Homo sapiens: one gene and its partners. The protein of the gene in region 1 purifies or fractionates together with the protein of each later gene. This does not show direct contact. Each region holds a gene or a part of one and is shown in the gene's direction. Other genes may lie near its edges.

Region 1 (5,787 bases):
ACAGCTCCAGGCTTGAAATAAATGTCTGCTCTTTTCAATGTCTGTGGCTTGGCTGAATTCAAACCAGCTAATATGGAAAAGGTTGATTTGAGGTTGAGCCACAGTGAATAATCGTGCGTTTCTGGGCATCTAATCTTTACTTACCTGTGTCTCTTCATCCTGCTCACCTTTCTTTTACCTTGATTTAGAGGGAAAAAAAATTGTCTGTGTGTAGATACATATGTATGTATACATGTATTTATTTTGCTTTATTCCATTTTGTAATTTCAAAGCTGCCTCGAATGGTCTTTGCAAGGAAGTGATGTAGGGTGTGAATTTCATAGGAAAATTGGGGTTTCAACAGGCCTTTTTTCTATGTTGCCCCGGCTGGAGTGCAGTGGCTATTCACAGGTGCAATTATGGCATGCTGCAGCCTCAAACTGCTGGGCTCAAGTAATTCTCCTGCCTTAGCCTCCTGAGTATAGTAGCTGGGACTATAGGCACATGCTACTGGCTCAGCAACAACAGGCCTTCTTATTTGCAACCAACTCGAGTTTTTTGTACCCGAGACATACCCCTCATAGCTGCAGGAAATCTTTGCTCTATGTATAGTTTCTCTAAAGCGTGAAGCAGATTGATGAGTTAAATAGAAACTCACCAGTGTTTCTGATGGAGTAGAGGCGAGCGTTTCTTCTCCCTGGCCAATATTTGATTTTTGATTGGCCTTGTACTTTATCTGGCTCATTTAGGAATGCTTCTGAATATGCAGAGCAAAATTACTGAGTTGCTCTTTATCCTTTCGTTGACTGTCAGACCTACATTTTTCCTCAGATTGCATTATTTGATGCTTACATTGCATTTTTTTTTTCTTTTGAGATGGAGTTTTGCTCTTTTTTCCCAGGCTGGAGTGCAATGGCGTGATCTTGGCTCACTGCAAACTCCGCCTCCCGTGTTCAAGCGATTCTCCTGCCTCAGCCTCCCAAGTGGCTGGGATTACAGGTGTGCACCACCATGCCCAGCTAATTTTGTATTTTTAGTAGAAATGGGGTTTCCCGGTGTTGGTCAGGCTGGTCTTAAACTCCTGACCTCATGTGATCCACCCGCCTCTGTCTCCCAAAGTGCTGGGATTACAGGCGTGAGCCACGACTCTTGGCCATGTGCAGTTTGAATGGTAGAAAAGTAATTTCTCCAAAGAGCAGAATTTTGGATCTCTTGAAAACGTGTCTTTTTTTTTTTTTTCCTGTAGTGCCCTCCCCACCTCTTAGGTGGCTATCTTCTTGTCATTCAGGTCTCAGAGCTTAAATTATAGCACCTCCCAAGCCACCACTCCATCAGAGGAGCTACCATGCCCTTCTGTACATCACCTTGTTAAATTTTTCACATAGTGAGCATTTAGTATATTTTTATTGTTTACACATTTGATGTTTTTCCTGTCTTCCTCCCCTAGAAAGTGGTCTCCTCGACAACACGCAGTGCTAGCTGCCGCAGCCTTAGTGCTTGTGCCCAAAGCACAGTCACAGCTGCTCAGTAAAGAATTTTTGAATAATTGTGTAAGTGATTTTTTCAGGTTATGAAGGCATTCTGCATAGACTGAAAGCTCTCTGATTGAAGGTTAAAATATTAGTTTGAGTGAATAAATAGGTGACTTGCTCCGTTGGATACTTCTGCCTGTTCTGGAATTTCATATAAATGCAGTCATAGTGCATGTACTCTTTAGCACTTTTTTCACTCAGCATAATCATTTTGAGACTCATCCAAGTTATAGTACATATGAATAGGTTTTGCTTTTCGTTTTTATTGTGGAGTAACATTTAAGTAAATGGGTAAGAATATACCCCAGTTTATCATTTTACCTCATGAGTCATGCCAGATTTCTTATGCTCACTATTTACATAGTTTTTCTTTTCCCATCCTTATGCCTTTATCCTGTGTCTTTATATTTAAGATATATCTCGTTTAGATAGTGCATAATTGGGTCTTGCTTTATCCTGTCTGGCAGTCTGCTCCTCCTAATTAGGTTGCTTCCTTTTTTTTTTTTTTTTTTTTTTTGAGAGACGTAGTCTCGCTCTGTTGCCGAGGCTGAGTGCAATGGCATGATCTTGGCTCACTGCAACCTACACAATTCTCCTGCCTCAGCCTCCCGAGTAGCTGAGACTACAGGTATGTGCCACCACGCCCGGCTAATTTTTTGTATTTTTTTCAGTAGAGATGGGGTTTCACCATGTTAGCTAGGATGGTCTTGATCTCCTGACCTCGTGGTCTGCCTGCCTCGGCTTCCCACAGTGCTGGAATTACAGGCATGAGCCACCGCGCCCGGCCTCTCCTTTTATATTTAACGTAATTGTTGAGGTAGTTGGGTTTAAGTCTACCTTCGTGCTCCTTGTTTTCCATTTGTACCGTCTGGCTTTTGTTCTTTTCTTGTTCCTTTACTTACTTTCTTTCTTTTTTTTTTTTTTAGATGGAGTTTTGTTCTAGTCACCTAGGCTGGAGTGCAATGGTGCAATCTCGGCTCACTGCAACCTCCGCCTCCCGGGTTCAAGCGATTCTTGTGTCTCAGCTTCCCGAGAAGCTGGGATTACAGGCGCCCATCACCACGCCCAGCTACTTTTTCATTTTCAGTAGAGACAGGGTTTCACCATGTTGGCCAGGCTGGTCTTGAACTCCTGACCTCAGGAGATTTGCCTGCCTCGGCCTCCCAAAGTGCTGGAATTACAGGCTGAGTCACCACGCCTGGTCTCCTTTACTTTCTTTGGGGTTAATCTCATCGCGTTTTAGGTTTCCATGTTTATGTTCTCTATTTATCTCGTTTAGATAGTGCATAATTGGGTCTCATTTGTTTCTTAGCAAAGCTGCCCTAATGGTTTGTGGTATGTGAGTGTAGATGCATGGACAGCTCAGGGTGTTTACTAGGGCCCTTCTACTTGGTGGGATGCAGCCTGGGCCTAGATCTTTAGGTCTTGATGGGGAAAGTTACTTCTGACCACTTGTTTGTTCAGCGTTCTTTTCTTTTTCCTCCTGATCTGTTTCTTGTGGGAAGCTCAAGTGTTCAAAAAGCCCATTTTCCAGTTAAATAGGCTGTTGCTTTGTTACTTATCTTCATTAGTCTTAGGATTATGATATATATCTGGAGGAATGTATATTATTGTTTAATTGTTACTGTTACCTGAATGCCCTGGATAAGTACAAGCCAACTCCAGCTAATAAGCTTAATGTTTTCTCAAAGTTGAGTTGATTGTAAGCATCTCCCGTGGAAATCTTGTTAATGGTAGTTTACATGCTCCCTCACCGTAATTCTGAGCTTGCATGCTGGTGGCTCTAAAGCCCTGGAGATAAGTGGCTTTTGTGGAGAGCCAGGCTGCAGAAAAAGGAGGATGAAGTCTTTGGGATGTGGGGAGCAGGAATATGGATTATTCAGAGACATCCTTCTCTGCTCTCCACTGCCCTTCCAGCCTACACCTAGGGGACAGAATCTCAGAGAATTGTTTCCAACGTATTATTCATGTCTTGCATTTGCTCAGCCAGATGTTGCCTTTCTAGGGCAGTGATTTTGGGACTCCATTTTCTTATTCAAAAGAGGATTTTCCTTTTAAGCTTCATTCTACTTCCACAGAGCTATTTTTAGAAGAAGATAAACTAAGCAATCTTTTCTGTGTTTGCTCTTTTTTAGTCGAGCAAAAGATGTGATAATACCAGCAAAGCCACCTGTCAGCTTTTTCTCCTTGAGGTCTCCAGTCCTTGACCTCTTCCAGGGGCAGCTGGATTATGCAGAGTACGTTCGACGGGATTCAGAGGTGGTACTGCTCTTCTTCTATGCCCCTTGGTGTGGACAGTCCATCGCTGCCAGGGCAGAAATTGAGCAAGCAGCAAGTCGGCTTTCAGATCAGGTAATGCTCACATTCAGCTTAAGAATCAAATGACTGTCAGTCCTATATGTAGGGCAGGATGTCCCCACAGAGACACCTTGCCCAACGGGCAGACTTTGCCAAGGTGAACTCCAGGAGTCGTTTCTAAGTTACAGAGCTTTCTATAAAGCAACAGAAAGGATTTCCAATTGTGGCGATTGTACTCCAAGGCAAGTGTGGGAGCAGATTCTGAATCTCATAACACAAGCCAATGCTTATCCTGGGGTGCCATACTGTTTGGTTTCAGCATTGAAAAAGGTAGAGGGACTGAAAATCCTAGTTCTTGCATATCCATTTGATACTTGCTAGTTAGGTATTTTAGGTAAGAAAATGTATGTATGATATGACTGCATTGTAACAAGGCCGACCTTTTTAATATATGGACCAGAACTATATTCAGCAGATAAGGAATGCCACCTTTGGGCTAGGTAAGAAAGATATATAGGCAAATAAGTCACCTGTTATGGCAGTGGTTTTCAGCCCAGTGGACCCCAGTTGTGCTTTAGAAAATAAGTATTTTATGATGTCCCTTTTTCTTCCTAAAAAGGAATTCATAGATGATAAAGTTTTCCTATACATGTAATTTCAAAATAATCTAATGCACGGATTGTAACATAGAGGTGAGGGGGGAAGAAAGTAATTTGTAACTAAATGATATATATTTTAGTATGTAAGTGCACAGTCAGAACAGGTCCATATACCTTTATGTAGAATCACTGAATGGGATAGTTACAAACGTAGACTGATAAAGGTGATATGTTGGTGACTTACCTGCCACATGGACATTGCTCTTAGTAATTGATTATCCTAAATGGTGAACAGTCTTGGTAAAATCCTGAACTATGCAAAGCCCTTTCTGCTCTCAGTTTACATAGAAGTTGCATTCCTGAAAAATTCAGTGAACACAAAAAGCATGCTTTAGATTCACATGTAAAATGGAGCTAGGTACTGGGCTTTGATAATAACAGGTTTTCCCCAACATCAGTGTTTGGCAGGCGTTTTGAACTCCTCTGGAATGCTATGGACGACTCTTCCGTGTGCAAAGCAGGTTTGAGTGTAGCAGGACATCTACCAACACCCCTGCCCTACGTATGCACTGTAGCTTCCCCCAGTCATTGTAGCAAGCCAAAAGCATCCCACAGATTTCTAAGACTCTCCTGCTCAGAACCACTGATGTGAAGTAACGTGTGTAGGCAGCTGAGTTCCAGAAGTTCATTTGGAACTGTCATTTGGTTTTTCTTAGAAACTGTGGAGCCTTCCAAATTTAGAGAACAAAGTTCACGTTGCCCATGTTGGGCACAAGAGGGATATCTATTGTGTTTTATTAATAAGTGTGAATTAGCTACCTTACTGTCAGCCTAAGCAGTATGTCCTTCTGAGTGATGGCATTAGTATAATAATAATGATATTCTGGTGTGCCAGGCCCCATGCCAATTCTCAACCACTTTGCAAGGCGATGCTGTCAGCCCTGTTTTTCTGAAGCAGGACTGCAGGCATAAGGGGTGAAGCAGTTTGTTTACCATCACGTAGTGGTGGGGGTTGTAGTGCAATCCAGGGACTGCTGCTTTTTTTAAAAAAAAAATTTCAGCTCCTTCCAAATTGAGAGCTTACTATTCCATGTACTCAGTAGGGAAAAAAGTGGGTTTATTTTTGGAAACACACAGAAATCTTTTGAACTGTATTGCATGGTAAGATTGGTAAACACGGTCCAAGTCCTGCCTGGACATCATAGATAAGAGTATGTCTTTCTTTTTTGTTTTAGTGATAAATTATGACCTTTGAAAACTCAAAACAGTTTTTTTCATAGTTTCTGTTTCAGTGAGAGAGGAATCATTCTATTTTTAAATTTCATCTTTTAAATCTTGGTAACTTTTCAGTTGTTATTCATAGTCATTTGAAAACCTTT
Region 2 (5,787 bases), on another chromosome or scaffold:
GAACTCCTGATGATCGCAGGTGATCCACCCACCTGGCCTCCCAAAGTGCTGGGATTACAGGTGTGAGACACCGCGCCCAGCCCGCAGCTTCAAATATTTTGTTTGTAGTTCTCTTTTATCGTGTAAAATCTGTGGTTTATAATTACCCCCGAGAATGCTCTCAAATTACAGTTTTAGCCTCCATTTGTTTTCTCAAATCTCCTCAATGGTTCACACACTCTAGGGGCTCTGAAAAGAGGTGTGTACTTTTCCTTTTATTTATATCCTCTGCCCATTTTATATTAACATACTTAACCCTTGTTTTTAATATGAGTTACAGATTTTTTTTTTTTTTTCTGGTATGTCATTTGTCTTTTGACCTTGGTGTTTTGTTATGGATTTTTTTTTTTCTCAGACTTATCTTTTATGGCTTCTGCATTTTAAGTCATACTTAGAAAAGGCCTTTCCATGTTCAGATTTTAAGGAATTTACTAGGCCAGGCATGGTAGCTCACACCTATATGTTAACACTTTGGAAGCTGAGGTGGGGGCATCGCTTGAGCTTTGGAGTTCAAGGCTGCAGTGAGCTATGATTGCTGCACTCCAGCCTGATAGACAGAGCGAGACCTGGTCTCCAATCCCCCCAAAAAAGACTTTATAAGGAATTATACTTCAATGTTTATCTTATACTTTCTGGTTTCTTTTTTTTTCATTTAATTCTTTGTTCTGTTTTTCTCAGCGAACTGTATGAGATACAGATCCACTGATCTTTTTCTAGATAGCTCTCCAGTTGTCCCAAAATCTTTTAAGTCTATTTGTAACTCACTGATAGTTGTATGCTACTTTTTCATATATTAAATTCTCATTTGTATATGGGCCCATTTTTCTGGATTTTTGTATTCTGTCTCTTGATTCCTGCTTGTTCGTGATCCATTATTCTCTCTTTTTTCTTTTTTTTTACAGTGTCCCTAGTTAATCTCACTTTTTTCATATGATCTTCAGAATCATGTTGTTTTGTTCCAGAAGCAAAAAAAAAAAAAAAAGCCTTTTAGTAATTTTTATTTGAATCACATTAATTTTATTCATTTATTTATTTTTAATTTATTTTACAATTATTATTTTTTTTGAAATGGAGTCTCACTCTGTCACCCAGACTGGAGCGCAGTGTTGTGATCTCGGCTCACTGCAACCTCTACCTCCCAGATTCAAGTGATTCGCCTGCCTCAGCCTCCTGAGTAGCTGGGACTACAGGCGCGCGCCACCTCGCCTGGCTAATTTTTGTATTTTTAGTAGAGACAGTGTTTCACCATGTTCGTCAGGCTGGTCTCGAACTCTGGACCTCAGGTGATCCAACGCACCTCAGCCTCCCAAAGTGCTGGGATTACAGGCACATTAATTTTATAAATTAACTTAGAATTAACACCTTTGTGATGTTGAGTCTCCTATCTAAGAACATGGTGGCTTTCTATTGGTTTATGTCCACTTTTGTGCTCTTTAGGAGTGTTTTAAAATTTTCCTTGTTTAGATTTTATACCATTTTGATTAGGTTCACTCCTGAGTACTTTATCTTTTTTTGTCTCTGTAATAAATGGAGTGTTTCATTCTGTCTTTTAACTGGTTATATTTGACTTTGCTCTTCTTATCCTTCAATTAGACCCCAAAAGCCATGCTTTTAGAAGATTCTGATTTAAATCTTACTCTGTTTTTTTTTACTCATACATCAGCCAGTGATTTGATAGGATGTTCTTATATATACATTGTGGGTATATTTGGTACCTGCAAATGGTTATGCTAAGTAATAATGAACTTATATATAACCAGGTAGATGAACAAAACATTTGCATTTGTAACTCGAGTAGTTGTAAGTTTTCTGTGGCACATAGTCAGTTGGCAGTGACTGGTTTTTAACTTTCCAATTTACATGGATGACTTGAAGATATATTGTGGGCATGGTAATGACGTAGAGGCAAGGAAACAGTAAAAATAATGCATCATGTAAAAACTAAATTTGTATCAGTGCTTACCTGGCAAATCATTTGAAGAGGTCCTGTTTGAACTTAATTCAATATTAAATATACCTAAAAATAGATTATAGAAGAGTCAAGATATTGGCATCAAGGTTTGTGAAATTAGAATAGTCTGGGTGGTAGAAATTTTTCGGAACACAGTGATGATTACTTTAAATTCATTCCTTGTCTAGATCTTTGAATTATATTTCGGACATTTTATGAGACTTTCCCCAAAGTGATGCATTACTATTCTGATTTTCATTATTTTATTTCAAACAAGTTTTGTTTTGTTTTTTTAAAAAAAGATACAGGTTATAGGAATATAAATATGGGCACTGTCAATATTGTGAACTAAGAGAATATTCTACCTAGGAGATGTAAATGTGTTGTATTAAAATTTTGAAAACTAATTTTGCTGGATATGCTAATTTTCATTATTAACTATACTTGGCAGCTGTTAATGGTTTGGGGGCACTTGGCTAATTTAAATCTTCCTCTTGATTATGTTTGTGATTTCTCATCTGGTGTGTGATGACTGAATTTGTAGTATGGTTTATTTATTGTTAGAGAATATATTCTCTCATGGAATTTGACTAAATGATTCAGGGGATTATTTTTTGCATTTTTCTTGATTTTTTTGTTTTTTGGTTTTTTTTGAAGGAAGTAGAATTTTCCTTTTATCAGGAACTTGTTTTTAAACTTGTGACTGAAATATCATAAATTTGCTTGGCAAATTTATTGTAAAGGGTCTTGGGATTAATAGATTATTTTAAAGCCTCCACACTGATTTTTTTCCTTAGCAGACAAGGTTTTTAAACTAATCATATTTTAAATAACCCAGTATATGCCTCTGAACATGAATCAGTTCTAATTTCTGCACTCTGTTCATTTTAGGAAGTGCAGCCTGTGGTGCATACAATAATTTATTCTCTTGTTTAGTTTTTTAAAACTGGATTTCTGGCTCATCTCTTGTAAGATGTTAAAGTTCTTTTCATGCAAATGGAAGGGATCTTAGGGCAACTTTAAGTTTGAAAAATATAAAATGAATGGAAAGATTTCTACCAATTTATCTGTTGCAGGGAAGCAAAATACAAACAAGAGTTGGATTATTAATGTTGCTTTGTACCTGGCTAAGCAATTGTCCCATTGCAGTAACGCATTTTCTTCACAATTCAGCCAATGTTCCATTTGTATCCTTTATGTTTTAGTAACGTACATGTAAGTATTTATATCTTTTTTAGTTTTTCTCCTCAATTAGAAGTAGTTCTATGCCCAAAATATTTGAATTCTCCACTATCTTATCTGTGTTGCAACTTTTTAAACTGTTAAAGTTGTTATGATGCTTGTTTAAGTTGTGTGTGTGTGGTTTGTTTTATGCCGGGTTGGAATATATATATGAAATTTCTTTTTTTTTTTTTTGAAATGAAGTCTTGCTCTGTCGCCCAGGCTGGAGTGTAGTGGCGCGATCTCGGCTCACTGCAACTTCCGCCTCCCAGGTTCAAGCAATTCTCCTGCCTCACTCAGCCTCCTGAGTAGCTAGGATTACAGGTGTGCGCAACCACAACCCGGCTAATTTTGTATTTTTAGTAGAGACATGTTGGCCAGGCTGGTCTCAAACTCCTGACCTCAGGTGATCCACCCACCTTGGCCTCCCAAAGTGCTGAGATTACAGGCATGAGCCACCACACCTAGCCTATATATGGAATTTCTTATGGGAACTCTTATGTGAAGTATTAATGTATGTCAAATTCAAATTGCAAAATGTACTAGATATTTTCAATCCTTAGCCTCCTTAACAAAGATTTCAGCTTACAGGACAAATTGCAGAAAATCTTGGAGAAGAAGAGCAGTTGGTCCAAGGCTTATGTGCCCTTTTGTTGGGCATTTCGATTTATTTCAATGATAACTCACTTGAGAGCTACATGAAGTAAGTAAGGGGAAGATGGTTTTCTAATGGCATCAAGAGATAATGATGCTTTTTTTTTTTTTTTGCCAAAGCATTATGTAGACCAAGCTTTTATGTTTTGTTTTGATTTTATTTTTTTTAAAGCATCTCAATATGCTTATCTCCGTAGAGAGAAGCTAAAACAACTGATTGAGAAGAGGATTGGCAAAGAGAATTTCATAGAGAAACTAGGATTTATTAGCAAACATGAGTTGTATTCCAGAGCATCTCAGAAACCCCAGCCAAACTTTCCCAGTCCAGAATACATGATATTTGATCATGAGTTTACGAAGCTGGTAAAAGAACTTGAAGGTAAGACTGAAGATTTATATTGATATTTGATGGAAAGTAATTATATTTATATTGTACATGTATATTCTGGATGCATACAGGTTATATGGTAACTCTAAAGGTATATTTTCTTCCTAGCTCTTGATCTGTAGCCCATTGAAGGACATTTGGCTTTCAGTAGGATTGAAAAGATTATTTCTTACCTATCATGGAGTTAGGTTATATGTTTTTACTAAGTCTTAGTAGTAAAATAGTATTTAAAACATTTAAAACAAATTTTAAATAAGCTTCCTTTTATAGGTGTTATAACTAAGGCTATTTATAAGTCCAGTGAAGAAGATAAAAAAGAAGAAGAGGTGAAAAAAACATTAGAACAGCATGACAATATTGTGACTCACTACAAAAATATGATTCGAGAGCAGGTAAGTACTAATGAACTGTATATACCCTCTGATTACCAATAGGCACTTTCTGCTTTAAGGGAGCCTTTTTTTCTGACATTTCAAATGAAAGAGGATATAGAAAGCAAAACCCATCATTTTTCAAAGCATCTGAGTATTCAACAAACAGAGTGCTTAATATGTGCTAAGCACCATGCAGCTGATTTATTAGATAATGATGAGTGGATAAAGATGAAACTACAATTGCGGAATCATCAGTTGACATTTTCTTTCCAGGATACCAGTGAACTTTCATTACTTGCATTGTGTTGAGTACCCTAAACCTTCATTATATTCCTTCAAAATGTTTTCTTGACTTTTACTCTCATTTAATTTCTTATGATATTTACCTTGATTGGAATTCTAGAAAGTGCTGAAAAATGAGGTTATTAATGTTGTTAAAATTCCAGTGTCATAAAAAAATACAATAGTGGCAGACCCTGTGGGACAGATTCATCCCCTTCCCTCTACTGCTCTCCACACCTGTCTACTAATTGTGCACAGTTTATGGCAGGTGTGGCAAGTAAAAGCATAGATAGAACCCTTTAAATTGACAACTGTTTATATCTTATTTTCTTCCTCACAATCTACATTACTGAGATTAGTTTGTTTTTTGTTTAGACAGAGTCTTGCTCTTGTTTCCCAGGCTGGAGTGCAGTGGCGCAGTCTCGGCTCACTGCAACCTCCGCCTCCCAGGTTCAAGCAATTCTCTTGCCTCAGCCTCGCAAGTAGCTGGGATTATAGGCGTGTGCCACCACGCTGCCTAATTTTTATATTTTTAGTAGAGATGAGGTTTCACCATGTTGGCTGGTGTTGATCTCCTGACCTCGGGTGATCCCTTCCCTTCCCTGCCTCAGCCTTCCGAAATGCTGGGATTATAGGCATAAGCCAGCGCGCCCAGCCTACTGAGATTAAAATTTTAAGAAAGAATGAAAATATTGTGGTATATTTAGCATTCATTCTAAGCTTTTCAGTTTAAAAGTAAATCAATCAATAAATTATAATCTTAGAATGGTAAAATTTGAATCATCAAACTACCTATGGTTATTAGGATTTTTCATCTATATCTGGGTACAAAGATGGAGCCATTTCCAGTTGCTAAAATGTAATAATATCTTTGGAAC
Region 3 (6,331 bases), on another chromosome or scaffold:
TGATGGAATTTCGATTTGACTGTTTCCAGCCACTTCTGAGTTTAACAAAGGAGGCTCATGTATATTCTTCATGGAATTTGGCTCCAAGAAAACTCAACTCAATTTCCTGGAATGGAGCGGATTTGTGACTTCAAAGAGAAACATCTGCATTTCCTTTTCTAAAAATACTCCATTTGCATTAGACTGCACCCTGTGACATTTCCACCAGATGGCAATACAGTCTTTGGATGACAGAGAGTCTTGCTGGTTTTCAAAATCTAGAAATATTTGTGTAGGCACTATAAAAAAGCATTTTTTAAATGAAAAGCTCCCATAACTGCCCCGCATTCTAAAGCAACCATCTTTATTTGCACATACTCACTTTGAGTTTTTGTCAATATTCATACAGTCGTTAAGTACATTTATAATGTGCATGGCATTTTAGTCTGCTATCAAAATTCAGCACAACATATATCATTCACATATTTCTACATGACCTTCATGATTATTGCAGCAGTTACATACTATTACACATAGTAAACCTTTCCCCTATTGTTACATAGTATGTAGTATGCACTTTTTCACCTGTTATAGATAATGCTGCAGGTAATGGCACACAATTGGCACACAGTTTTGGAACATTAGGAAGAACTTTAGGGATAGGAATACAGGGTGAAAGACATAGATGTCTTTTGCTCTTTAACTTTTCCAGAAAGATGTGCAGATTTACGTGGCTATCAGCACTGTGAGAGGATCTGGGTTCTGACCAGTTGCACTAGGCCCACGTTTTTGTTTTACTTTAATTTTTTAAATCCTAAAAGTCAGGTGCAGGGGCTTTAGCCTGTAATACTAGCACTTTGGGAGACTGAGGTGGGAGCTCAGGAATTCAAGACCAGCCTGGGCAACAGAGTTAGACCCAGTCTCAAAAAAAAAAAAAAAAAAAAAGAAAGCGAGAAAGAAAACGAAAGGGAGGGAGGGAGGGAAGGAAGGAAGGAAAAAAGAAGAAAAGAAGAGAAGAGAAATTAGGGCCAGTGGCATTGGGTCATGCCTGTAATCCCAGCACTTTGGGAGGCCAAGACGGGCAGATCACCTGAGGTCAGGAGTTTGAGACCAGCCTGGCCAACATGGTGAAACCCCGTCTCTACTAAAAATACAAAAATTAGCCGGGCGTGGTGATGGCGCCTGTAATCCCAGCTACTCGAGAAGCTGAATTGCTTGAACCTGGGAGGCGGAGTTTGCAGTGAGCAGAGATGGCACTCCAGCCTGGGTCACAAGAGTGAAACTACATCTCAAAAAAAAAAAAAAAAAAAATTAGCCGGGTGTGGTGGTGCATGCCTGTAGTCCCAGCTGCTTGGGAGGTTGAGGCAGGAGGATCACTTGAGCTGGGAGGTTGAGACTACAGTGAGCTGTGATTGCATGACTGTACTTCAGCCTTGGTGATGGAGCAAGACCTTGTCTCCAAAAATTATATATATATCCTAAGACATCTCCCATGATGATACATTAATTTCATTCAACAAGTATTTGTTCAATCTGCTGTTCCAAGTTTAATATTGAGTACTGGGAAGGCAATAATGAGGAAATACAGTCAGGCGGGGAGTCAGATTCTTCATCCTACAATTATGTAAACAAGTGTCAAGCCCCTGCCATGACAAGCGCCATGTGGGAGAGTAACAGGGTGCTCCACAGCCCTGAGTGGGAGCGTTGCTGAGTCAGGAGGCCCAGCCATCCACGTTTCATCTTCCTTCCAGGCCTTGCGTTTGCTGCTCCGTTTGGAGCACTGCCCAAGCGTTGTCTTAGCTCCTGCTGCGGGGGAAACTGCATGGATAACCTGGGGTGGGGGCAGTGTCTACAGAGGAAAGGACTTGAAAATGCACTTCTCCCGAACTAGGTGATGTTTTCTGTGTGTGTGGCCCTTCTTCACAGTGGCCTCCTAGAAAAACAAGACCCTGACTCAAAGAATACCTCTCATTACAGTAAGACTGTTTGGAATGCTTTACTTTTTTAAAAATTTAATTTAATTGTTTAATGTGGTAAAAAAAATATATAACATAAAACTAACCAGCTTAACCATCTTAAGGGCACAGTTCAGTGGCATTAAGTACATTCTCTTTGTTGTGCAACCATCACCACCACCCATCTCCAGAACTCTTTTAAAATCTTCCCAAACTCTGTACCCATCAAACAACTCCCATTTCCTTCTCTCTTCACCTCTGGCAACCATCATCCTACTTTTTCTTTATATGAGTTTGACGGCTCTAGGAACCTCTTATAACTGAAGTTATCCAGGTCTGTCTGTTTGTGACTAGCTAGTTTCACTTAGCATAATGTTCTCGAGGTCCATTCATGTAACACATGTCAGAATTTCTTTTCTTTCTAAGGCTGAAGAATATTCCATTGTATGGACCTACCACATTGCATGTATCTGTTTATCCACTGAGGGACCCTTGGGTTGCTATGGAAAATAATGCAACTACGAACATGGACATCTGTTCTAGTCCTTGCTTTCAATTATTTTGTGTAGATGCACAGCAGTGGAATTGCTGGATCAGATGGTAATGCTATGTTTGCTTCACTATTTGTCATGTGCCTTTATGCATATTGTGATAAAATTTGATTTTTACAATAGTCCTGTGAGATAAGTAAGCATTGGTCTGTGGTTAAGAGAAGTGATTTCTTCAAAGTGAAATGATGAACGGAAGAGTATCCTGACCTTAAACTTGGCTTTTTTTTATTGCCCGTTCAGCTTGAAGAGTGGTTCCAATCACAAGTGTTACCTTCCAAGGACAATGTCATCCTGGTAATAACCAGCTTGCTCCCCTGCCCTGAGTCTTCTGCCAAGTCTGTCCAGGTGTGGGTCTGGGGCAGGGGACAGCTCATCCATTTCCCACTGCACAGAACGGAGGCTGTGTCCAGGGCCCCAGCAACAAAGGTTTCTCCTCTGGGTTTCTGTTTCCCTCTTTCAGTTCAGTCTGTCATCTGAACCATGAGGATCTGGTGGCTTCTGCTTGCCATTGAAATCTGCACAGGGAACATAAACTCACAGGACACCTGCAGGCAAGGGCACCCTGGAATCCCTGGGAACCCCGGTCACAATGGTCTGCCTGGAAGAGATGGACGAGACGGAGCGAAGGGTGACAAAGGCGATGCAGGTACTCACCTGACGGCTTCGGCTGCCTTTGAGCTTCTCTCTTCATTACTTTCATCTCATTCACTCATCATCTGTGTGGTTTTCCACCTACCCACTCACAACCCATCCATCCATCCACCCAGCAACATTCACTGGAGCCTGACCCCATTCATCCATCCACCCATCTGCCCAGCAACACTCACGGGGTCTGCTCCATGCCAGACTCTGTGCCAGGTGCTGGTGGAGAGCACAGGGCCAGATCGCCATGACCCCTGCCCTCCTGGGTTCTCTCATCTCTGACACCGCAGGACATTTTCAGTAGTATACAATGTCATGGATCCTCCCACCTCAGGTGACAGGTATGTTGGATTTTTGGCAACACGAGGCCAATAGAGAGATCTGATCATGAATTATTTGGCAGCAAGCACCCAGCTGCAGTGCAGGTGAGAGCTAATACCATATCATGTCATGAAGCAGGAGATGCGGAGTGACAGATGACACATACAGCTGCTGCTTATGAATCTATGACCTAGGCAGGGTCTGGGGATCTGGGGACAGAATCCATCCTCTGGGAGGGAGATTTGCCAAAGCCTGGAAGTCTGAGTGCTTTCCATAACAACAACCAATAGACTTGGTTTCTGAATGGGGTACCATTCTTGAGGCCTGGTCTTGACCATAGGGTCACATATCTAAGACTTATGCAGAATGATTCACTGGGTTAAGAGCACAGTTCAGTGGCATTAGAAAGAAAATATCAAAACTTCTATGGACCTTTTTACAAATAAGTTTGTGTTTCTAACATGTCTCACTTTATGGCATTTGGTGGCCTGATAGTTTTTTGAATGGGCTGGATGAAGCCAAGGGTCACCAGGAAGCAACTTTATTTCTTTCTAACCGGCACATCTGCTCTGTGAGGTGTCTTCTCCTGGCTCCTCACATCTCCAGCTCATTGAGACTGTTCCAGTCCCCCGGTAGCAAATAGCCCAGTCCAAATGAATACTAAAACCTTACCCTTAATGAAATCAGGTCTTCTGCCCTCACACTGTGACCACAGTGGTGTGTGTGTGTGTGTGTGTGTGTGTGTGTATGTCTGTGTCTGTGTGTATTTTATTTCTGAATGTTTAGGATTTTCATTTTTTAAATTTTTGTTATAAAATATTACACATAAAAGGAGATAAATAGGTGATACAAAATACAGAGAACTAAGACAAACACTTCTATATTCAATACCAAATTTCTCTACCTCTTCCGTGTTGAATTTCTCTCCTCTGCTCACCAATGTCCATTCTTTCAAGTTTTACATACTTCTTAGAAGCAAATGTTATATCTATTTTTTCTATGTAATTCATAAGTATTATTTGTAATATATATTCTTTCTTAGAAGGACATTCAATCACATTGCTCACACTAAAAATTTACTTCATTTTTATCTTACCATCTTAAAGTGTATTTTTGTGTATGTTTTATACCAAACATATTTTTCATATACTACCTGTGCATAATGTAGAAACATATAAATGTCTACTGATTGGGGTCTGTGTTCATGCTTTGTGAGTTGTGGTGCGTGATCATGAAAGCTCAGAGGCCACTGCTCTAGAGAATGGGAGAAACGAGAGCCAAGCAGGGGAACAAAAAGAGGGAAGGAGAGGAAGACACAGGGGAGCAGCCAGTAGAGGGGAGGGAAGGGGAGCGCAGGGAGGGGCAAATGTAGGGATAAGCCCCCTCCATTCAGAGGTCCCACGCTGACCAAGGCCCCACTCAGGAGCGCTGGTGTCCCAGGAGAACAGACATCGTGACAGAAATAAGTCTGCCTGTGTCAGTCCTGTCTCAGGACCTGCAAGCCGGCCCAGCCTGCGCCTGTCGCCCCACAGCCACGTCAGTGGGTCTGAAGTATGGGAGTCTCTGCTGCTTTGTGAGAAGCCAGAGTCTGGGGTGAGCTGTGGCCCAATGAGCACTCTACTGCCATAGCCAGAGCCACCTTCAACCCGCTGACGGATAGCACGCCGACCTGGAGCTCAGGGGGGCCTGTTCTGAGCACAAGGACTTGAGTGTAGTCAGCAGAGCCCCACTCACCTGATGTTCTCTGCCAGCTCGATTAGTAGCATTTCCCCCAGTGTAAGGCACTAGAGGGATCCCTCCAGAACTCTCTCTTCTATCTTGGGATAGTGTCACGTAACCATAGTCATCTGTGTTTTCATAGGAGCCTAGTAAATCTTCCATTCCACTCTCCTCAAGAGTAATGGAAGAGAAACAGAGTGAGGAAACCTCCTCGCACCTCCAACATTCAGACCACGTCCCAAGTCCTTGTCGCAGGAGAGGAACACAATCAATTGTGACAGTCAGTCCCCATTGCACACACTCCCTCTTCGTCCTGTCTTGCTGTGCGCTCTAGGCACGTCCTAGAGATGGGCGCTTGGGAAGTCACTCAGTTCATTTCTTAGGTCACTTATCCCACGCAGCTCAGCACCCCAGATGCCCGCTCATGCCTGCCTCTCTCCACCTGCGCTCGTGTGGAGGACAGAGTGCCCGTCAGGGCGGGGGTCACCCCCAGACTCTCCAACACATGGCTGATGGAGACCAATGGCCAGAAAAATCAGAAATGGAATTTCAACTCATGCCTGTTTTCTGCTTTTCCACCTAGGAGAACCAGGATGTCCTGGCAGCCCGGGGAAGGATGGGACGAGTGGAGAGAAGGGAGAACGAGGTTAGTAGTTCCTATTTATGGTGCTCTAATTCTGAGCTGTCGACTATTTAACAATATTACCATGGACAAGTCCTCCATGCTGATTATAATCTTATAATAAAGGCAACACAGTTCTTACTCTCCAGATGGGGGGATTCTGCAGGGATTGGCAGGCTTTGCAGAGGGCTGGGTAGTAAATATTCTCAACTCCACACAGATCTGTCACCACTACTCAACTTCCCCTTGTAGTGAAAAGAAGCTGTAGATGCTCCATAAATAAGCATGGCTCTGTTCCAGTGACACCATATGTGTGAAGACTGAAATGGGAATTTCCCATGGTTTCCATGTATTGTGGAATATTATTTGTGACCATTTAAACATGCAAACCATGGCCGAGCACCATGCCTCACACCTGTAATCCCAACACTTTGGGAGGCCCAGGTAAGAGAATCGCTTGAACCTAGGAGTTCCAGACCACCCTGGGCAACATAGTAAGACTTTGTCTATACAAATAAAAAAACTAGCCAGGCATGGTGGCA
Region 4 (5,787 bases), on another chromosome or scaffold:
AATTGCTTGAACCCAGGAGGCGGAGGTTGCAGTGAGCCGAGATTGTGCCACTGCACTCCAGCCTGGTCGACAGAGTGAGACTCCGTCTCCAAAAAAAAAAAACAAGATTGCATAAGATGTGAATACTCAGTCATTTTAATCAGTGGGAATAATTATAATTATTATAATTGTTTTTTGATCTTTACGAATCTTGTCAAAATGTTAAAAAAAAGGCTCTTCTTTCTGTCAGTTATTAATGTTTAGAGAAATGAAAAAATAGTAAAAATATTTAGTATACTATAATTTAAAACTTACGAAATATTGAGAATTATTTTCTTTTTTAAAAACTTAGCAAGAATAGTTTAAACTGTGCTTGCCACCTTCCTCTCATATAATTTATAACTAAGTGAGCATCTTTTCTGTACCTTGACAGATTGTCATGTTTCTAAATTTGGATCCGCTTTACATTTGTATATTCATTACATTCTTATTGAGCATCCACCATAGCTGTTCCAGTACTGTGCTAAGAAAAGATCATTTCAATGGATTTGCAGCTAACTTTATGGCTTCAACTCGAGTCTTGCCTTGAAATGTCACCTTTAAACATGCCTAGTCAGATTCAAGGGCTTGCGTGGATTTCTTAGATATAAGGCATTCACATGGACTCTTGTAAAAGAGTAATGGAAACAACTATAGAAATTTGCACTTGTTTACTGAAGACAGGAGAAGTAAAAGCTGCTTTCATAAGCCCAAGAATTACGGAGATTTTTATTAAACTATAACTATTTTCCCAATCACCTCACTAATACAGAGAGCTTCTAAATCATTGCCAGGGGTCATTTTCATACCTTTTGAACATGTTTTGAAAATAGATTACAGGGCCAGGCGCAGTGGCTCACGCCTGTAATCCCAGCACTTTGGGAGGCCGAGGCGGGCAGATCACGAGGTCAGGAGATCGAGACCATCCTGGCTAACACGGTGAAACCCCATCTCTACTAAAAATACAAAAAATTAGCCGGGCATGGTGGCGGTTGCCTGTAGTTCCAGCTACTCAGGAGGCTGAGGCAGGAGAATGGCGTGAACCTGGGAGGCGGAGCTTGCAGTGAGCTGAGATCATACCACTGCACTCCAGCCTGGGCAACAGAGCGAGACTCCATCTCAAAAAAAAAAAAAAAAAGAAAAGAAAATAGATTACATGACTATCTAATTATCTAGTGAATGTAAAAATAAATAATGAAGGCCGGGCACGGTGGCTGAAGCTTGTAATCCCAAATGAGGCAGGTGGATCACCTGAGGTCAGGAGTTCAAGACCAGCCTGGCCAACATGGCAAAACCCTGTCTCTACTAAAAATAGAAAAATTAGCCAGGCATGGTGGCACATGCCTGTAGTCCCAGCTACTTGGGAGGCTGAGGCAGGAGAATCGCTTGAACCCAAGAGGCAGAGGTCACAGTAGGCCAAAATCGTGCCACTGCACTCCAGCCTGGGTGACAGAGCAAGACTCCATCTCATAAATAAATAAATACTTTTGTTTTAAAAGCATATTATTGACCTACCTGTAAGGAATAATTGGTTGAGGGAAGAATTGTGAAAAAAGATGTAGAAAAGATGTAGGGTTGTAAGGGGCTAGAAAAACCCGTGCAGCTGGTAGAGAGGGAATGGAAAGCAGATCCTGTGAAAGGATAGCACAGGAAGAGAGGCAAAATCCATAATCCTTACTTTATTTTTGATCAACACAGTACTGCCAACCCTCAGATTAAGGCAAGGTAAGCAGATTTATATCATCTTTACTCATATCTTCTGATAGATTTACTAAAGATGATTCCATATCTACTAAATTAGAAAGCCAGAGCTACCGCCTTAAACTGCTTGGAGTGCAAATATTCACAAAGAGGCAAAACTGTGACCCAAATTCCTGATTTTTGCTTTTGCTTCCCTTCTTCTCAGGTGCTCTCTACTAGGTAAGATTGGGAGATATTGGACTACTACTAAAATTTAGTGCTCACTTCATTCTACCTCTCAACCTCTACTTTGTCCTTAATGTTTTGCTCCTTTAATGTAGGCAGAGGTTCAAGAAACCAGGAAGATGAGTGATCATAATTTTCACGTTTTATCGTAGTGACTTATTTCATGCCTCTTTCTCCCAGTAGACTACATATTCCATGAGGGCAAAGGCCATGTTATTCATATCTAGCTAGTGCCCAGCATAAGTAACTCACTATCTGTTGAGTGAATGAGTAAACCTAATTTATTATTTTGGAATACATTTCTGTTTTAAATTTATTATTTTTTTTTAGATATGCAACCATTGTCTCCAATTTCTGTCCATGAACGCTACAGTTCTCCTACCGCAGGGAGTGCTAAGAGAAGACTCTTTGGAGAGGACCCCCCAAAGGAAATGCTTATGGACAAGATCATAACAGAAGGAACAAAATTGAAAATCGCTCCTTCTTCAAGCATTACTGCTGAAAATGTATCAATTTTACCTGGTCAAACTCTTCTAACAATGGCCACAGCCCCAGTAACAGGAACAACAGGACATAAAGTTACAATTCCATTACATGGTAACGTTATAGTGCATTTGTTTTGTACTTTTTCTGAGATAAAAATTTAAGAAATGTCTTAGTGGATTAGATCACATGGTTTTTCTAACTCATTATTTTTTCTTGAACCTATACTTTTTTTTTTTAAATAGATTTGAATTTTTTAGAGCAGTTGTAGATTCACAGCAAAATTCAGAGGAAGGTACAGACATTTCTCATAGTCCCCCTTCCCCAACCAGAGGCATATAAAGCCTCCCTCATTATCAGTATTCCACACCAGAATGCTACATTTGTTACAGTTGATGAACCTACATTACTGACACATTACCCAATGCCCATAGTTTACATTAGGGTTCACTCTTGGTGAATAGTTTATTGATTTTGAGAACGTATAATGACATGTATCTGTCACTATAGCTCCATACAGAGTAGTTTCACTGCCCTATAAATCCTCTGTGCCCCACCTTTTTGTTTTGAACCTATAGTGGTTTTTTTTTTATTTTTAAATTTTATAAATTTACTACCCTCTCTGTTTGTTTAGACTTATTTTACTTTTTCTTTTCTTCTTTTTTTATTTTTTGAGACAGGATCTCACTCTGTCACCCACATTGGAGTACAGCAGCATGATCTCATCTCACTGCAACCTCTGCTCCCAGGCTCAAGTGATCGTCCCACCTCAGCCTCCTGAGTAGCTGGGACCACAGGCAAGTGCCACCACTCCCAGCTAATTTTTTCTATTTGTGGTACAGATGAGGTTTTACCATGTTGCCCAGGTCTCAAACTACTTTTAAAATGTTCTTATCTGAGCTTTCCAATATGTATGTATTGAGCAAAAATTCTGTTTTTTGACTAACAGCTCAAGTGCTCAAAATGTTAAAAAAAAAAATGCTTTTTTTTCCAATAAATTTAAACTATAAATGTATCCCAGGCAAATACAAAATAGAGAACAAAATTTGCTTTTTTTTCCATAAATTTAAAGTATAAAAACAAAACCGAATATTCTTGTTTCTAGAAAATAAGGATTTATGCGGGGCATGGTAGCTTTCACCTGTAATCCCAGCACTTTGGGAGACCAAGGCAAGAGGATCACTTTAGCCCAGGAGTTTGAGACCCAGACTGGGCAACATAGCAATATCCTATCTCTACAAAAAATTAAATTAGCTGGGCATGGTGATGTATGCCTATGGTCCCAGCTACTTAGGAGGCTGAGGCAGGAGAATCACTTGAGCCCAGGAATTTGAGGCTACAGTGAGCCATGATCACGCTACTGTACTCCAGCCAGGACAACAGAGCAAGACATTGTCAAAAAAAAAAAGAAAAAGAAAAAAAAAAGGGGGCCCGGGGGGCGCCAGGCACAGTGGCTCACACCTATAATCCCAGCACTTTGGGAGGCTGAGGCAGGTGGATCACTTGAGGTCAGGAGTTTGAGACCAGCCTGGCCAACGTGGTGAAACCCCGTCTCTACTAAAAATAGAGAAAAAACATTAGCCGGGTGTGGTGGCGCATGCCTGTAGTCCCAACTATTCAGGAGGCTGAGGCAGGAGAATTGCTTGAACCTGGGAGGCAGAGGTCTCAGTGAGCCAAGATGAGGCCACTGCACTCCCACCTGGGTGACAGAGTGAGACTGTCTCAAAAAAAAAAAAAAAAAGTCCAGCTGCAGTGGCTCATGCCTGTAATCCTAGCATTTTGGGAGGCCAAGGCAGGCAGATGGCTTGAGCTGACGAGTTCGAGACTAACCTGGGCAACATGGCAAAACTCCCATCTCTAAAAAAAAAATACAAGCCGGGCACAGTAGCTCACTCCTGTAATCCCAGCACTTTGGGAGGCCGAGGAGGGCAGATCATGAGGTCAGGAGATCGAGACCATCCTGGCTAACATGGTGAAACCCTGTGTCTACTAAAAATATTTTAAAAATTAGCCGGGTGTGGTAGCATGTGCCTGTAGTTCCAGCTACTCAGGAGGCTAAGGCAGGAGAATTGAACCCGGGAGGCAGAGGTTGCAGTGAGCCGAGATCACGCCACTGCACTCCAGCCTGGGCGACAGAGCAAGACTCCATCTCAAAAAAAAAAAAAAAAAATTTACCAGGCATAGTGGCTTGCACCTGTAGTCTCAGCTATTTGCGGGGGTTGAAATGGGAGGATCACTTGAGCCCAGGAGGTCGAGGCCACAGTGAGCTGAGATGGCGCCACTGCACTCCAGCCTGAGTGACCAAGTGAGACCCTGTCTCAAAAAAAAAAAAAAAAAGAATTCAGTCATAACCTAGAATTACTATTTTGTAGCCTTCTTATACACACAGATATATGTATATATAATTGTCAAAATATATATAGTTGACAACTTTCCTAGAACATATGCAGATTATTTCTAATAATGCTTATACATTCAGGTGTCGCAAATGATGCTGGAGAGATCACACTGATACCTCTTTCCATGAATACAAATCAGGAGTCCAAAGTCAAGAGTCCTGTATCACTTACTGCTCATTCATTAATTGGTGCTTCTCCAAAACAGACCAATCTGACTAAAGCACAAGAGGTACATTCAACTGGAATAAACAGGCCAAAGAGAACTGGGTCCTTAGCACTATTTTACAGAAAGGTATGTGTTTTTATAGCACTTTAGAAGAATTTGTTTAATCAATGGAAGAAAGATTGAGTAACAGAGACAGACTTTGGTCTTTTTTTTTTCTAATATACATAACACAAAATTTACCATTTTAACCATTTTTAAGTGTACAGTTCAATGGTATTAAATACATTCACATTGTTGTGCAGCTTTATTACTACCGTCTATCTCCAGAACTTTTTCGTCTTCCCATTCTGAAATTCTGTATCCATTTCTCCCTTTCCCCAGCTTCTGGCAACTACTATTCTACTTTCTGTTTCTGTGAATTTGACTACTCTAGGTTCTTCCTATGAGTGAAGTCATACGATATTTGTTTGTTTTTGTGACTGGCTTAGCGTAATGTCTTCTAGGTTCATTCATATTATAGCTTGTGCCAGAATTTCCTTCCTTTTCAAGGCTGAATAATATTCCATTGTATGAAGAAGAGAAAAAAAGAACAAAAGAAAAAATATTCCATCATATGAATATACTTTTTTTTAATACCACATTTTGTTTATTCATTCATCTGCTGATGGGCATTTGGGTTGCTTCTACCTTTTGGCTATTGTGAGTTATGCTGCTATGAACATTTGTGTACAGGTGTCTGTTCAAACCAGGCGTGGTTGCTCATGCCTGTAAACCCAGCACTTTATGAGGCCGAGG

What was found.
Region 2: the proteins of TXNDC11 (region 1) and USO1 purify together in Homo sapiens (affinity purification with mass spectrometry; 3 studies listed by BioGRID and IntAct, with this or other methods). This does not show direct contact.
Region 3: the proteins of TXNDC11 (region 1) and C1QTNF9B purify together in Homo sapiens (co-immunoprecipitation; one large-scale study listed by IntAct). This does not show direct contact.
Region 4: the proteins of TXNDC11 (region 1) and RBL1 purify together in Homo sapiens (affinity purification with mass spectrometry; 3 studies listed by BioGRID and IntAct, with this or other methods). This does not show direct contact.

What each region holds. Positions count from the first base shown.
Region 1 is NC_000016.10:11,734,093-11,739,879, reverse strand, and holds part of TXNDC11 (thioredoxin domain-containing protein 11), read left to right. Parts: intron 1-3,646; coding exon 3,647-3,863; intron 3,864-5,787. UniProt on the Homo sapiens protein: May act as a redox regulator involved in DUOX proteins folding. The interaction with DUOX1 and DUOX2 suggest that it belongs to a multiprotein complex constituting the thyroid H(2)O(2) generating system.
Region 2 is NC_000004.12:75,796,556-75,802,342, forward strand, and holds part of USO1 (general vesicular transport factor p115), read left to right. Parts: intron 1-3,066; coding exon 3,067-3,177; intron 3,178-3,795; coding exon 3,796-3,914; intron 3,915-4,062; coding exon 4,063-4,244; intron 4,245-4,523; coding exon 4,524-4,645; intron 4,646-5,787. UniProt on the Homo sapiens protein: General vesicular transport factor required for intercisternal transport in the Golgi stack; it is required for transcytotic fusion and/or subsequent binding of the vesicles to the target membrane.
Region 3 is NC_000013.11:23,893,621-23,899,951, reverse strand, and holds the start of C1QTNF9B (complement C1q and tumor necrosis factor-related protein 9B precursor), read left to right. Parts: upstream 1-2,449; 5' UTR 2,450-2,534; intron 2,535-2,725; 5' UTR 2,726-2,830; intron 2,831-2,945; 5' UTR 2,946-2,965; coding exon 2,966-3,131; intron 3,132-5,309; coding exon of another isoform or gene 5,310-5,441; intron 5,442-5,750; coding exon 5,751-5,813; intron 5,814-6,331. UniProt on the Homo sapiens protein: Probable adipokine. Activates AMPK, AKT, and p44/42 MAPK signaling pathways.
Region 4 is NC_000020.11:37,031,996-37,037,782, reverse strand, and holds part of RBL1 (retinoblastoma-like protein 1), read left to right. Parts: intron 1-2,274; coding exon 2,275-2,541; intron 2,542-4,906; coding exon 4,907-5,118; intron 5,119-5,787. UniProt on the Homo sapiens protein: Key regulator of entry into cell division. Directly involved in heterochromatin formation by maintaining overall chromatin structure and, in particular, that of constitutive heterochromatin by stabilizing histone methylation.